2 separate regions of the Homo sapiens genome follow, and region 2 is linked to region 1. The links come from fine-mapping of genetic effects on gene expression. Tissue or cell type: tibial artery. Region 1 holds a variant in brackets; the other region holds the start of a gene. All regions are shown on one strand. Distances are between the middles of the regions.

Region 1 (8,106 bases):
ATTTTGAATATTTTGTATCCATTAACAAATTATTGGGCCAGGCGTGGTGGCTCACACCTGTAATCCCAGCACTTTGGGATGCCAAGGTGGGTGGATCATGAGGTCAGGAGTTGAAGACTAGCCTGGCCAACATGGTGAAACCCTGTCTCTACTAAAAATACAAAAAATTAGCTGGGTGTGGTGGCACACGCCTGTAATTCCAGCTACTCAGGAGGCTGAGGCAGGAGAATTGCTTAAACCCAGGAGGTGGGAGGTTGCAGTGAGCTGAGATCATGCCATTGCACTCCAGCCTGGGCAACAGAGCAAGACTCTGTCTCGAAAAAAAAAATTATTGTAGCTGTATTTGTTTTTAGTACTTTATGTACCCCCATTAAAATATTAGAGTATTTTGAACTTAACTGTATTTTTATATTTACAGTGAGTTTTATATTTTCATATGCTTTCATGCTGTTAGTGTCTTCATTTAAACTTGAAGAAATCCCTTTAGCACTTCTTATAAGGCAGTTCTAGTGGTGATGCCCTCCCACAGCTTTTGTTTGCTTGGGAAAGTATTTTTCTTCTTTCATTTTTAAAGAACAGATTTGCTGGGTATAGTATTCTTGGTTGACTGATTTTGTTTTCCTAGCACTTTGAATATATCAGCCCATTATCTCTCTTTTTGCTGCACCCAGGAGCTGTAATCTCTCACTTGAATTTCTTAGCCCTTGTGATGATATACTAAGTGTGGATAGTTGTTTAATTTCATATTTCTGCAAGAGGACGAGTGCTAGAAATTCCTATTCTGTCATCTTGCTGATATCACTCTCATTCTGCTCACTTATAAAATAGATATAATAATATCTACCACATAGGATTATTATGAGTATTAATGAGGGAAAATGTATAAAACATCCAACACATAGTAAACCCTGTCTAAACATTTTACAAATATTATTTCCCTTTCCCTTTTCATTCTTGCGCTAGGCATTGGCCACTTATTATGTGAGCTACAGATAAAATGTCTATTGGGCATGCTCTTCCAATTGGTAAATTATTGTTAATTCATTTTAGTAACATGACAAGAGATTAACAGATAGATAAAATATATAGATGGTGTTACAGTGGTAGGATATCTAAATAAGAAACTTATTCAATAAAGACTACTCTAACTATAGTTATAAAAGGACTGCATCCAATTTGCCCTACCATTTTCTAGATGAAGAACCATTGTGGAACAGTAATTGATAAATCTCTAGGGGTTCCACAGCTTTGGTCACAGAGCCTTGGCCATTAGAGGCATATAATACATATTTATTTCTTCATTGATTCTAAGAAGAGGAAAGAAACAAGACATTGTGCATCTTGAATTTACATAAAAAATACATGTTTCAATTTTACTAATCAAATTATGGCAGGTCATTCATTTTTTATTTCTCCTGTAATTTTCTAGCACATTGATCTTTATTTAGACTAACCAGAACACTTAGATACAGACTAATCAAACTGTTCATCTGAGAATCTTGATGCACTTTATTTAATGTTAATTTTAAAATTTGAATTAAATTACCGAAGACTGAATCTGAGTATGATGAAGAAATTTATTCCATTGGTAACAATTTGCTTGATTTTATCAAGCTACTGAATACCTTAAAACTTTCCATGCAAGTGTTAAAATACAAGTAGGTAATTTAAAAAAGTTATCAGAGGAGTTCACTATTGACAATGAAGCTAAAACCATTTTGTCATTTACTTTTTAAAAATTAATATTTTGAGTAGTAACAAAATTGAATTTGGTGACTTCACTGACTAATATAGGTTTTTATGGTATATAATAGAAAGACATTGCTTCCAATTTTTAAAATTTATGTAAAAACATTTTAAGAAAAATTTTTACAATTTGTTCCTTCAGAGATCTAAATTAGCCTTGTGACTATTTTTCTAAGTGATAGAAAATTTGAATCTAAAAGTAGAAGCAAACAAACAAAACTTGTTGCAAACTTTTCCTATATGTTAGTAATTAATATGTAGTTTTTTCGAACCACCTGGTTCCATGCTGACTCTTCAGTGCTTGTTCTGTTCTCAAAAATTGACATTGGATTGACTGAATAAGTACTGAGTACTTAACTATATGTGAGTTTTGTTTCTATTTTTTTCATAAATCAAGTCATTTAAATTCACAGCAACACTGTAGGTATTTTACAGATGAGAAATCAATTGCAACTCACTTTAAGAATAGATAAACTTGGTGTTCAAGACCTTGAGATGTCAGCACCTGCATCCCTTTTTTCTTCTTGGGGTTTTGGGGGTGATTAACTGCTTGACATCTGTGAAGACAACTATTTCCTACTGACAAAATGGTTGACTGCTTAGAAAAAAAAACAGTTTGCTGCTGTGTTAAATTGGCCCTTCTCTTCCTTTATTTTATTCCTATGAATTGAGAGCCACTGTAGTAATGGAGCAGCAGGGATGGCAGGATATGGGGTCATGGCCTGCCTTGTCACTAATGGCCCTGCAACTTTACTCAGCCATCAACTCTTTCCTGTTGCTCTCCCAGGAAAGCAGCAGGCCCTGGAGTCTCAGCCTGGGAGAAAGGTGCAGAATGAAGCTTCATGCTGAGGAGGAAGATTAAGTTCTGAGTGGTGTTCATGCAGAGGGTTTAAATGGTGCCAATTTGGGATGGATTCACACTAGAAGTCTGCTAAATTCCACCTTCTCTTTTAATGAACACTGGTGATTACCTCTGAGTGCACCCCAGAGGCTGTTTCCCTTATGTCAAATACATGTGACTCCATCAAATATATGTGACTCCATCCATTGCTATCAGTTTTATTGTGGGCTCTTCACTCTGCCTCCCAAACTCTTCGTCTCTCTGAGCCACTTGCACCACTTGTGCTTGTGGTCTCAGATTCATGCTGCAATGCTTTAAAAATGCGAGAGCAAACGAAGGTTTAAACCTGGTGGGTAGGGAAAATCACTTAAACATCTTTTGACTTAAAAGGTACTATAACAACTTAAGTCATTATTATTCTCAAGGCCTAAAACAACCTCAATGCCACCATGCTGGGTAAAAGGCGTTCAAGTTCCCAGCATGGCTTTGCTGCCATCATTCAGTGCCACAGCCATGTGAAAAAACACCATAGATGGATGAGCTCTGTGGTGCGGTATTTCAGCCTTGCTTGCTTGATAATTGTCAGGCAGAGCTTTCCTCACTCCGTAAATAGAAAGCTGTTTATTTAAATTTTCTATAAAAAAGAGAACTGTGGGATTACCCATTGTTTCAAATCTCCCCCTGGCAAGTGAAAAACAAATGGAATCCGAATTAAGTTTTATATTATCATCACTGGAATTTGTGCAATTCTGTGTGAAAATGTTGGAAACTGAT[C/T]CCCATGGATGTTTTTGGCTCTAACTGTGTTGTAAAGGAAATAGTCAATTATTTTCTCATTAAATACAGTGTTAGATTTTTGTTCCATTTACTCTCAGAAGGTAGAGAAGCAACAGAAATGTAGTAGAGGCTCCCGGGAGATGAATATAAGGACACAGAACTCTTGCTGTCTTCATTTATTCCATTTACAGCAATAGATTCCTCACAGACCCTTATGGTGGGAATGAAACTGGAGCTATGTTAAGAGATAAATAGTGTTTTTATGAGGAAAGGTCAAGCAATATCAAGAAGAAAAAAATCAGAAATTAATTTTTTTTACCGTATGAATCATTTTTTTAAAGAGAATTTAAGCCTGAAAAAAATGCAACAGGTGAATTATATAGAAATGGCATTTATTCATTTATTCAATGAGCATTTATCCCCACTGTGTGTCAGGCACTAGTTTTGATTAGAAGATTCAATCTTTGACCTTAAGGAATATTCCCTCTGAATAGATGGACTTTAAATAAATAGCAAACAATTAGCACCCTGCATCTCTCCAGCTCCCCACCCCACCTCAGGCAAGACTAAAACTAAATAAATAGAATCAGGTCTTAAGAAGCCTTAACTTCTCTACCTGCAAGTTTTCACCTCTTTGCCCTCCTGTAACCTAAACCACATAGGTATTGACTTAAAATGTGCTATAAATGTTCCATTTCAAAACGATGCAACAGAGGCTTATTGCTCTGAGTGACTTGTCTCAAGAACCCCTTCAGTCCTTCACTTTGAGAACTCCTCAATACTGCTGTTAGCTGAAAAGGTGAACATTTCTTTTTTTTTTCTTTTATTTTATTTTAGGGTAGGACTCTAGAATCTGCTTTTTAAACTTTTGCTGTATTTATTTTATTTTATTTATTTTATTATACTTTAACTTCTGGATACATGTGCAGAACGTGCAGGTTTGTTACATAGGTATGCACGTGCCATGGTAGTTTGCTGCACCCATCAACTCGTCATCTACATTAGGTATTTCTTCTAATGCTACCCCTCCCCTAGCTCCCCCACCCGCAAACAGGCCCCAGTGTGTGATGTTCCCCTCCCTGGGTCCATGTGTTCTCATTGCTCGACTCCCACTTATGAGTGAGAACATGCGGTGTTTGGTTTTCTGTTCCTGTGATCTATGACAAACCTAACACGAACAAACAATGGGGAAAGGCTTCCCTATTTAATAAGTGGTGTTGGGAAAACTGGCTAGCCAGACACAGAAAACTGACACTTGATCCCTTCCTTACACCTTATACAAAAATTAACTCAAGATGGATTAAAGACTTAAATGTAAGACCTAAAACTATACAAACCACAGAAGAAAACTTAGGCAATACCATCCAGGACAAAGGGATGGGCAAAGACTTCATGACTAAAACATGAAAAGCAATGGCAACAAAAGCCAAAATTGACAAATGGGATCTAATTAAACTAAAGAGCTTCTGCAAGCAAAAGAAACTACCGTCAGAGGGAACAGGCAACCTACAGAATGGGAGAAAATTTTTGCAATCTATCCATCTGACAGAGGGCCAATATCCAGAATCTACAAGGAACAAATTTACGAGAAAAAACAACCCCATCAAAAAGTAGGCAAAGGATATAAACAGACACTTCTCAAAAGAAGACATTTATGCGGCCAAGAAACATGAAAATAAGCTCATCATTACTGGCCATTAGAGAAATGCAAATCAAAACCACAATGAGATACCATCTCACGCCAGTCAGATTAGTGATGATTAAAAAGTCAGGAAACAACAGATGCTGGAGAGGATGTGGAGAAATAGGAACACTTTTACACTGTTGGTGGGAGTGTAAATTAGTTCAACCATTGTGGAAGACAGTGTGGCAATTCCTCAAGGATCTAGAACCAGGAATACCATTTGACCCAGCAATCCCATTCCTGGGTATATACCCAATGGAATATAAATCATTCTACTATAAAGACACATGCACATGTATGTTTATTGCAGCACTGTTCACAATAGCAAAGACTTGGAACCAACCCAAATGCCCATCAATGATAGACTGGATAACGAAAATGTGACACATATACACCATGGAATACGATGCAGACATAAACAAGGATGAGCTCATGTCTTTTGCAGGGACATGGATGAAGCTGGAAACCATCATTCTCAACAAAAGGTGTACATTTCTATCTGTGGCTAGGCTTCGACCATGTTCTACCACATAATGCTGGGTTTTGATATCTTGAAAACTTTGGTTGACTCTCCTACTTTGTTTTGCTTGGCTCGTAATTCTAAAAAAAATATGACTTTATTCTTCACACCATCCCCTCCTTCCTGTTTTTACTTTCGTCGGGTTATGTTAGCATCAGCAATGCAGTTGGCTGATAGCAACAGAAAATCTACCAGTGGCTTAAAGATATGGGGTTTGTTTATTTTACACAATAAGAAGTTCTGGGGTAGGTTGCTTATGGCTAGTATGATACTTCAGTGATGCCATCAAGTACTAAGCCTTTTCCATATTTTGCTCTGTCATCCCTTCTGTGTATGTTTTTGTCCTCCAGCTTGTTGCCTCGTGGTTACGAGGTAGATGCTGCACCTCCAGACCAAACATCTGCATTCCGGTCAGAAAGTTGAGGAAGGAGGAAGAAGTTAAGGGCTATGTCAACTGAATTCATCCCCTCATTTCTATTTTTAAAAATCAGGAGATAGATTCTAGCTGTCCTAGAAGTCCCACCTAACAAACTCAAGTTTATATGTTGTTGGTCAGAACTGTGTTACATGGTCAATAAGTCAGGCTGGGACATCTGGGGATTGTGGGAGATGTTGGGTTGCCAACCAGTGGAGAAATGGCTATGTTGTGCTCTTAAATTCATTTGCAGTATTCAAAGTTTCAGGGGCAGCCTGTAGGGCAAATCTAAAAAAAGGTTAGAGAGGGCAAATTTGAATTAGTTTAATATTTGGCCTAAAATAATGTTAGATATTTTCCCATCAAAATGGTATTTTCTTATCTGATAAAATAAGTAATTTCCAAAAAGCATTAATACTTTTTTGGGGGAAAAACTTATTGGGACTTATCTTAGTCAGCTCAGGCTGCTATAACAGAATACCGCAGACTAGATGGCTTTGGTCCCTTCATCTTTTTTAAACAATTTATTTATTTTTTATTTATCTTTCATTTTACTTTAAGTTTTGTGATACATGTGCAGAATGTGCAGGTTTGTTACATAGGTATACATGGGCCATGGTGGTTTGCTGCACCTATCAACCCATCATCTAGGTTTTAGGCCCCGCATGCATTAGGTGTTTGTCCTAATGATCTTCCTCCCTTTGCCCCCATCCCCCAACAGGTCCTGGTGTGTGATGTTTCCCTCCTTGTGTCCATGTGTTCTTATTGTTCAACTCCCACTTATGAATGAGAACATGGGGAGTTTGGTTTTCTGTTCCTTTGTTAGTTTTGCTGAGAATGATGGCTTCCAGCTTTATCCATGTCCCTGCAAAGAACATGATCTCATTCTTTTTTATGACTGCATAGTATTCCATGGTGTATAAGTGCCTTAAAAAAGAGGGACTCCTCCCTAATTCATTTTATGAGTCCAGCATCATCCCAATACCAAAACCCGGCAGAGACACAACAAAAAAAGAAAACTTCAGACCAATATCTCTCATGAACATCCATGTGAAAATCTTCAATAAAATACTGGCAAATTGAATTCAGCAGCGTATGAAAAAGCTTATACACCACGATCAAGTTGGCTTCATCCCTGGGATGCAAGGCTGGTTCAACATACACAAACCAATAAACGTAATCCATTGTATGATCAGAACCAATGACAAAAACCACATGTTTATCTCAATAGATGCAGAAAAGGCCTTCGATAAAATTCAACCTTCATCTTTTTATAAAGGCATGAATCCCATCACTGGGACAACATCCTCATGACCTCATCTAAACCTACTTACTTCCCAAAGGCCTCACTTCCAAATACAATCCCACCGGGGTTTAGTGTACCTATACATGAAATTCTGGGGGACACAAACAGGCAGCCCATAACAGAACTTAAAAAAAAAATAGCAAGTGCTCTTGAAATTAAAAGAACATAAGGAAACATTCTCCAAGCTCCATCATAGATTCCCATAGGGACCAACTAAAAATAATGGAAGATGAATGTGAGGCAAGTGAGCTTAAAAAAACCTTGAGCACCAATTCCTGTTAGATATGCCTCAATTTCTTTAAGGCTGTAGGAGTTTGGGCTGTTGTAATTTTTTAGCATATAATTTTCATAGTGCTATCAATAATGTCTTTATATGCTTCTCATAAACAAAAAATATACATTTGCTGATGAAAGAAGCTGCTAATTTCTTCAAAATAAGACAGGAATCTCAACAATTTCCTTTTAACTGTTAAGCAACAATAAATCAACAAGGCTATCTAAATTCTATTTTTTTTTCATTATGCCAGATGCCTTAGTTATGGAAGTATTTTCTCAAAACTCAATTTGTCCTATTAAGTTTACAAATGGAAGATTTTTATAATGTGCATAGTATTTTTCTCTTCTCTTGTGTCTCAGTTTGCCTTTCTTTGGACCAAGAAAGGTGGTGCTTAAGACTCACAGAGATTACATTTGAGAGTGACATCTTCTTGGGCACTTCAATCCATCACATCAGAGAACCCAATTACCTTAGTAATCATTGACTAACTACTGATAAGAAAATCTTCAAAATGTTGTCCTTCCAAACCAAAGTCAAAGTACA
Region 2 (8,106 bases), 680 kb after region 1:
ATTCCAAAGCGATTGCCTTAAGCTAAGCTAAAAAACAGGTTCATCTATGGCAAGTGGTTAGATCCTGTGGATTTATTTATTTTTACTTGCGAATTAATACAGTAGCCCTGTAATACTGATCTACATTAGGAAATTATATAACTAGTGGAGCCTGAATTGACAAACAAAAACTTGGATATCGCTACAGATAGGATATGTAGAAGCTGTCTAACTGGCCTGATCTATTCTCTGGGCTGATATTTCAGTAATGCCTTTATTCTCTAATAATGGTGAGTCCCCCAGCACATGCTGCTATATAGATTAACCTAATTTCAAAGGCGGGGACTTGATTCCTTTTGTTCATCAAGAGTTTGCCCGCCTGCAAGACCCCAGCGCCTTTGTAGTCCCCACCCTCCTTCACTGCTCTCAACTTCTCCCCAGGCTCCTTGGATTCGCACCTCCCAGGCGACTGTTTGTTAGTTTGGGGTGTGTGTGTGTGTGTGTGTGCCCATGTGTGCACGCGCGCGCGACAGGGGCGGTACCTATCCCTCCAGGTATGCAAGGTCCACTCACCTTGACCTGACTCTCTGTCATCCCCAACGAATAGGCCAAACGAGCCCTCTCGGGCCCCGCCAAGTATTTTGTTTGTTCGAAAGTCTTCTCCAGGGCGAAGATCTGCTGTCCGGAAAAAGTGGGTCTCGTGTGTTTTCTCTTCCCGTCTTTGTCCAACAAAATGGATCCTTGATCTGTGAGAACCAATAAACAACGAGAGAGGGGGAAAAACAATCGGTTACAAGCGGCTGCACTAGGGGGAAAAAACGAACTCGAAAAACAATGTTTTGTGGGGAAAGAAAGCTCAGTCTGTGGCGGACACCAGAAGTGTAGTGGCGCTTCCAGACTAACGGCACGTCTCCCTTTGCTTTTTTACATCCACCTGTTTTTTAAAAGCCGCGTGTTTGGCGCAGCAGTAAATACCTTCTGCTCAACACCGACGTCAAACAGCTAGGGAGCCTATTGCTAAAGTTTGCCAGAGCCTAATCGCAAGGCCCCATTAAATTAACGACTGCCAGAAAAAGGCCACTCTCGCCTCCTAATCCAGTCGGTGCTCGTTCGGCCCCGGAGCCTTTAAGTGAGAATAACTAGATTTTTTTTTTTTTCCTTCAACGCTTCCCTAACCTGTGTCCAGGCAACAAAGGGGTCCTTGTTTTTGCACACAAGAGAGCTAAATCGCCCCCAAGTCTAACGTCGCTGCAGCCGAGGGGGAGAGGGGAAGGGGGAGGGGGCACAGCCTTTGTTGGCGGCCCCTAATACGGCCATCAAAACCGATACAATAGCGTCTCCCTGGCACCCCCACCAGGCCCGGCTGCCACAGTCCCCGGGCTTCCCAAGAGAACCTCCACTTGGCTTTCGCAACTTCCCGCAGTTACTGCCGCTCAGCCGCACTAAGGAGGTCCGGAGACTTGGAAGAAACTTCGGAGACTCGCTGAAAGGCGAAGAACTGAGCGAGAAAAGGACCCCAGGCTGGGCCCTGAAGTCCACCTGGAAGGCTGGGAGCCTCCGCGGCGCTGCGGCCTACTACCCCGAAGACTAGCGTGATCTTGGGGCAACTCAGTTTGCCTCAAGCAAGGTCTTTGCGGGATGGTACATTTTCCCCAGGCCGTGTCCCTTCATCTCACTCTTCTCCTGGCTCGCTCTTGTGTTAGGGTGTTGAGCTCCACGATGTCCCCAAATGTGCCCGGACGCAGCGTGTGCCAGCCCCCAGAGTGGAGGCAGGTGGGAAAGCGCGGGCCCAGCGCTGGTGAGCGGCTGGAAGCGCTCGCCCTGCCCTGGGGACGCTGGACTGTCTTCAATGGGCTCACCCAGGCCGAGTGTACTCGGGCGGCGAGGGCGAAGAGGTGAGGTGGGGACACCCCAGGCGGAGACGTGCATGCAAATACACTCACTTCCCGGGCGGTGGAGGGCTCACCGCTGCCGGGCCTCACTGCTTCGAAGAGAGGCAGCGGGTTAGGCTGGCGAAGGCGGAATGGGGCGCTGGACGACAGGGAGGAGCCGGGAAAGCAGAGATGCAGTGGCCTCTCCTCCCCTCTCCTCCCCATCTTTCTAATCCAGGCCAGGCCTGCGGTCCTGGCCAGGCCGTTTCAGGAACAGCCAGGGCCTCGGACGAGACACACGTCCCTCACCGCGTTGTGGTCCACACGAACACACACACACCGGCTCAGCCCAGGCGTACTCAAGACTTAGAGAGAGGGAGGCGCTTGGATACAGCCACGCGAGCTCAGAAAAGCGAGAATCCCTTTCTGGAAGCCCTGGCCCAACCTAACTGGTGTGATTCCGGCGCTGTCAAACTACTGGGGCGGGCCACAGGATGGACTGAGCGGCATGCACACCAGGGGCCGCGACCCGGGAGTGGGCAGAACAGGCACGGCAGGCAGGCATCGGGGCGCGGGTGGTAGTACTCACGAGGGGTACAGGCCAGGCGTGCGTCCCTCCAGGGCGGGCTCTGCATCACTCCGGGCCAGAAGATGGGCGTCCGGCCAGGCAGCTCAGCCAGCGGCTTGGGGTACCGGCCCACGGCGGCCACGGCCGCGGCGCTGGGGCTGAAGTAGAGCCCGGGCGGCGGCGGCGGCGGGCTCAGGCTGCTAAAGCGTGGCAGTCCGGCCAGCAGCCCCGCCGGGGATGAGGCGGCGGCTGCGGCCGCGGCAGCAGCCGCGGCGGCGGCAGAGGCGGAGGAGGCAGAGGCGGACGAGGAAGAGGAGGAGGAGGAACCGGAGGGCGAGGCGGAGGGCAGGGCGGCCCCCGAGGCCACGGGCATGGAGGGCCGGCTCAGGATATCGTTGATGCCGTGTGGGGTGGCGGCCGAGAGCTGCTGCGGGGGGCTGCCGAGGGATGAGAGCCCCCCCGTGGCCGGGGGCTTCAGGCCGCCTGGGTTGTGGGTGCCCAGAGGCGGGGAGGGCGACGAGGAGGACGACGACGAGGACGAGGAGGAGGGGGGGCCGGCAGGCAGCGGGGGATACGCGGCAGGGTACAGCGGGGTCTTCATCTCGGCCATGCTGTGCAGGGCGGCCAGGGGAGGGCTGCTGAGCAGGAATGCGCTCTGCCGGGTGCCCTCCATTGCCCCCACCGCTAACATCCCACGGCCACGCCGGAGACCGTAGCCTTGCAGCGAGGGCGCTGGCTGGTGCCCCCCGCGGGGCTCAGAGGAGCCGGAAGCGCCGAGGGCGCGAGCGGAGAGGCACTCGGCGCGCCCGGAGGCGAGCTGCCAACTGAACCAAAAATGCCGCTGCCGGGAGTTGCTCGCCTAGCTGCGCAGCAGAGATGTCCAAACCCTCCACGCGGGAGGCGGCAGCTCGCCGAGAAAAGCAGGCGTCCCGGCGGGCTAGGCAGTCCTTTCGTTCCGCGAGTCCTAGATTCGATCCCTGGCTATTCTCTCTTCCTCACTTTTCCTAGCTGTTCAAAGTGCGCTACTTCTCATCTTCTGCCCCCGGGAAATAAGCAAAACAAAACCCAGGCTGGCTCCGGAGAGTTTGTAGCAAAGTTAGTTGCCGAATCTCCACTTTGAAGTTGGAGGGTGGGGGTGGCTTGCTTTCTTTGGGGAGGTTCAAAGGACGCCTTGTGCAGCCCGTGGCGCTCCTCTGATCTTACTGGGATGCTCTGCTCTTTCGGTCGCGCGGCTGATTCGCATTCGACGCTCACTGTGCCCGGGGAGAAAGCGCATCCAGCCCGCGGGAGATCTAGCCTCTGTGCGGGCTTCCTCCGCCCACGCTGCCCCGGGCTGCTGCGCCAGAAAGGGCAGTGCCACGGATCCCCGCGGCTCCCAGGTCCTCACCTCCACCCGCCTTGCCCTCTGGCCCACGGGGCACTGGAGTTGCAATATTGAAAAGAAAAAGGGGGAGGAAAAACACAGAAAAACAAAAGACTAAGTGTGAAAAGTCTGACGGCTGGGTTTCGGCGCCGCTCGTCAGTCCACTTCTGCAAACGGGCCCGGCGACCCCCGCCCCACCCCCGCTCCCTCTCTCCCTCTCACTCTCAGCCTTTGACTCTCCTCTCTGGCATTTTCTTCGCGGCTTCCCAGGCTTCGGTCTTCTAAGTCCTGTCCTCTGGCCAAACTGACCCTCTCCGCGGCTCCTCCGCTCTTTCTCTCCTTTCCTCTCTCCCTCCGGGCCTGACAGTTCAGATGAAGCTCTCAAAGGTAATAAAACATTTGCATCACTCCCTACCCCTCTTTAGCTGGGGGACGAAAGGGAGGGGGAAGTGGGGGACCAAAATGAGAACTTTGAGGGACGTCACTCCGAGGCTGCGGGGGCCGGCGAGCCGGGCGCAGGCCGGGGGCGTAACCACCGTGTCCAATAGCTCGCCGCCTCGATCCTTGCGTCGCCCCTGGGGCTCGCCCACTCGGGGGCGCCGCACCCTCTGATTGGCTGAGGCGGGCCAGGCGTAGGGCCGCGCCCGCCTAGTCCCCTCCCGCTCCCTACTTCTTTCTCCTGTGGGCGGGGCCAGGAGGGGCGGGAGCTGGTGAGTGGTGCGGTTCCGCGCTGGGGCCAGTGGCCGCCTCAATTAATTGTGCTAAATAAAATGAGAAAGGGGAGGGGGAAGCAGAGACGAAGAGGGTATTACTTTTTAAAGAGAGGAATAATGAAAACTCAGCCCTTTTATGGAAAAGCAGTTCATATTCTTCCCTTGCTTCCCCACTAGCCCGCTCGCGTCATCCTATCCCCTTCCCCCACCAGCTCTGGAGGGCGCCTCACCTCGAACCAAGTCTGGTCCCTTGTAAAATGGAGCTAATGGAGCAGGCAGCCGGCGCAGCCCTGGCCTGGCTCCTTCTTTTGAAGGGATTAATTAAAGGCCATCTGGGCTCTCCCAGAATTGTGTAAATTAATTTGTTGCTCCTTAAGCCTTATAGATGTCCTTAATCCCCTTGTAGGCCAAAGGATCGTCCTCTTCCATCTTTCCACCTCCTGCTTTCCTTTTCTGTTCTTTCTCCTCCACTTTATTTTTTTTTTCATTCCCGAGTTCCCCCCCGCCCGTCGCTTCCCACCGCGTTCATTATCATTTATGGGTTACTCAATTCGCTGAAAACTGAATCCGTTTAATAGGAATATTTATCTGTCAGATGATGTTTATACCTGAGAACAGTGAGGGAGTTTTTTCCCTTAACTTTTCTCCCTTTGATTATTGTTGTTATTTCCTTTGGGTTTACATGGGGGTAGAATCATCAAAATTCAGGCGGAAACTTTAGATACAGAAGCATCTAGGTACACCCTGGGAACTGTAAGCTTTTGAAAACCCTCTCCAAAACTCTGGCGCCTACTCCCAATTCTAGAGTTGCTACGGGAGATGGAGATGTACCAGCTCCTGGACAGTGGTGGTGGGATGTCTATCTAGAGTTTAGGAGTTGAAGGGTGGCTTCCTTTACTCTCTAAATCTCTTCCATCTCTGGCTGATCTTTACGTTCCCGACAGGGTTGAACTGCGGGCTGGAGAAGGAAAACCCTTTGACAATTTTGAGAATTCAGCATGTTAAAGTAACACACCATTGGAAGGTGGTCGCTACAGCAAATTTGGATGAGATCATTAATTACAATTTTAATGAGCAGAAAACAGAAATAAACGCAATAAATGGCTCAAGAATAAAATTTGATCAGCACCACCGACGGATGGAGTTTAGCTATTGGTGTCAAAGCGCTCATTTGGGTCCAAGCACGAAAAGCCAGGAGGGCGTACTCCGCTTCGATAACCTTCGTTTACTAAGCACTAGTTTTTAAGGGTCAGCTTGAGTTTGAGTCTGAAACTGGGGGAAGGAAGGGTTATATTTGCCAGTTTTATTTCCTTCTAAGATAGAAGCAATGTTATTTGGTCCTCCTCTTCCTTTATCTTTCTTCATTAACTTCAAGACTGGTTTAAATCTATTATTTCATGGACTTTAGAATCTGACCTGGGGTAAGGTGAAGTCCTTCGTCAGCATGAATAGTGCTAAGGAGTCAAGCCAAGACTTGCTTCAGAAGAGAGCTGATGTGCGGACCTTCTGCATTTCCACGCGGGGATCCAGTGCTTGGGTCTAAACCCCAGCGCCCTGCCACCTCGGCCAGGAAGCTGCGGGAGGATGGTGGCAGGCATAGCCCGTCCTAGCCTTGAAACTGGGGGGCCTATGTCTCTGGCTTCGTTACAAACGAAACGTTTCTCGCCTTCGGACACTCCACCCTGGCGGTGGTACCCAACCTTCAGTCTCCACTCTGCGCCTGGCCCTCCAGCGACCTCCTCACATCCTCCAGGACACTGCATTCTCAAGGACTAGGTAGGAATTGGGAGGAAAAGAGGCCAGTCATCCCCAAAGATTCCAATGTTAAAGAGTGATCCCCTTTTTATCTCATGTAAATATTATGACTCGGAAGAGAGTTGAATATTTCCCTATTGAGAATGTTAGTATCTACTATTGGAGGCGGGGTTGCCAAAGAGAGACACGGGGGTGGGGGAGAGATTGAGACTGAGATTCAACTCAATCCAACTCAGGGTGAACTGTCTTGAGTAAATAGTTGCAACGCTTGGTGTAAGGATGTCTCCATCGTTCACTTTTACGTATCATTTGCATTGCCAAATTAAAATGGCAGCATTGTTCTTAATTATGACAATAAAAAATTCCGGATCCGTGTACCTTGATCCCTGGTAGTGAGGGGGTGAGCCCCGGGTGCTCGATCCCGCGTAGAGCAGCGTGTATTGCAGACGCACGCTGGGCAGCACGGGAAGGCAGGCCGGTGCCTCCTGCCAGGTGCTAGTTGTAGTGGATCTGCTGCCTGTCTACAGCTGGGAGCGGTGACAACGATGGAGCGTCCTCGGAGAGGGTGGGCTGCCCCCTGTCACTCCCGGGGGAAGATCGCCCTGCCCTCCGCTCTAACTGCGTGGTTGAAACCAGTTTCGGGACCCGAGTCCTGGTCCCGCTGACGCGGGAGGCTTGTTTCTGGTGGGGCAGTCTTAACGCATTGCCTTCAGATGCCTTTGAGAGTCAGGACTTGCTCTTTCTTGGGGATCCTCCGAAACCAGCATGCCTTCCTGCCCACGACCTAATAAAGTGGGACTTTTTCAAGTACCCCTTGGGAGTGGACGTGTAACACGTGGTCGCAAGGATCCCGGCGCATCTCTACGCAGTATATCTAATGGGGATGGGGGGGCTCTGTTTGAAAGCAAATGATTTGCATTTTAATTGAAAAATAAATGAAAGCGGTTTGGCAAATTCTGAGGTTGCAAAAAGGGTTTAAAGGGTGGCGGTGAGGAAGGTTCTGTGCTCCTCGACTTTGAGGCTGGAAACAACAGCATTTGTTTTCTGGTTACTGTTTTTAGCTTGCTGGCATTGTTGCCTAGTCTGTGCCGTCCACTTGACCTCTCTACCTGCAGTCTAACCCTTGACGCAGAAATGCCAAGCGCGTTTTGATACTTGTTTTAAGTTAAAAGAATAGCCACCAAATTCAAGGTAACTAACGGAAGGAATGCAAATGAACTCTCAGCTAAACGTACTAACATTCTGAAGGGAGGGATGATAACGGTTTTGCCCCAAATACAGTAATGTCAAATGTCGGGATACTCAAGTGTAGCAGCAGAAAGTCAATTTCTATTCTGCAGAAAAAAAGTGGGTGGGGTGGGGTCGGATGGGGAGAGGAATGAAGGGAATTATGTGTGTGTTTCAGTCCAAAAATCTCTCTAAAATGCAGTTGCTTGAAGTGTCTGGATGACTTCTTTAATAACTCCATTTCACCTGACGAATAGGGCCTGTTTGTGCTGAACCCGCGGGACAGCTGGGTTTAACTGAATGTCATAAAAGGATTGAGCTGATTGCTAGGTAGAAATACAAGGAAGAAGGAAGAATGTCCCCAAGCTTGAACCAACCTACCCTTGAGGAAGGATAGCAGGGCGAGGGGGAGAACGTGTCTGTCTTTCTTTGCTTCCTATAAACGCCGTAGAGTGGAAACTGCACCTTTGCCACAACTTCTGCTGCCCAGCACTTAAGGTAGAGATTTGGGAAGAATTGAAGCAGACAGCGTGGAAAAGCGCCGTAGGATCTTGCGTTCGGCGCTCTCCCAGTGGAGGCCAACACCAAACAAGTGGGGAAGCGACCAGTGTAAACAGCCCCATCCATTCT

Which allele goes with the higher level. Alleles are on the strand shown, and positions count from the first base shown. SD is a standard deviation of normalised expression in the study named.
With allele C in place of T in region 1, the expression in tibial artery of the gene that starts at base 4,173 in region 2 is lower (large effect, 1.8 SD a copy in GTEx).

Evidence for each region. PIP is the estimated chance that this variant, and not a neighbour inherited with it, causes the effect.
Region 2: it holds the start of NKX6-1, and the variant in region 1 is fine-mapped to the expression of NKX6-1 in tibial artery (GTEx, PIP above 0.99).

The regions. Positions count from the first base shown.
Region 1 is chr4:83,819,153-83,827,258 of GRCh38, forward strand. No RefSeq gene overlaps it. Among named protein-coding and RNA genes, the nearest start is that of GPAT3, 290 kb to the left of the region's middle. The variant C/T (reference allele first, on the strand shown) is at 3,362.
Region 2 is chr4:84,495,120-84,503,225 of GRCh38, forward strand. NKX6-1 (NK6 homeobox 1) reads right to left here and starts at 4,173. Exons shown (of 3, transcript NM_006168.3): 1 at 2,440-4,173; 2 at 553-725. The coding sequence starts at 3,109. RefSeq lists an enhancer at 501-1,001.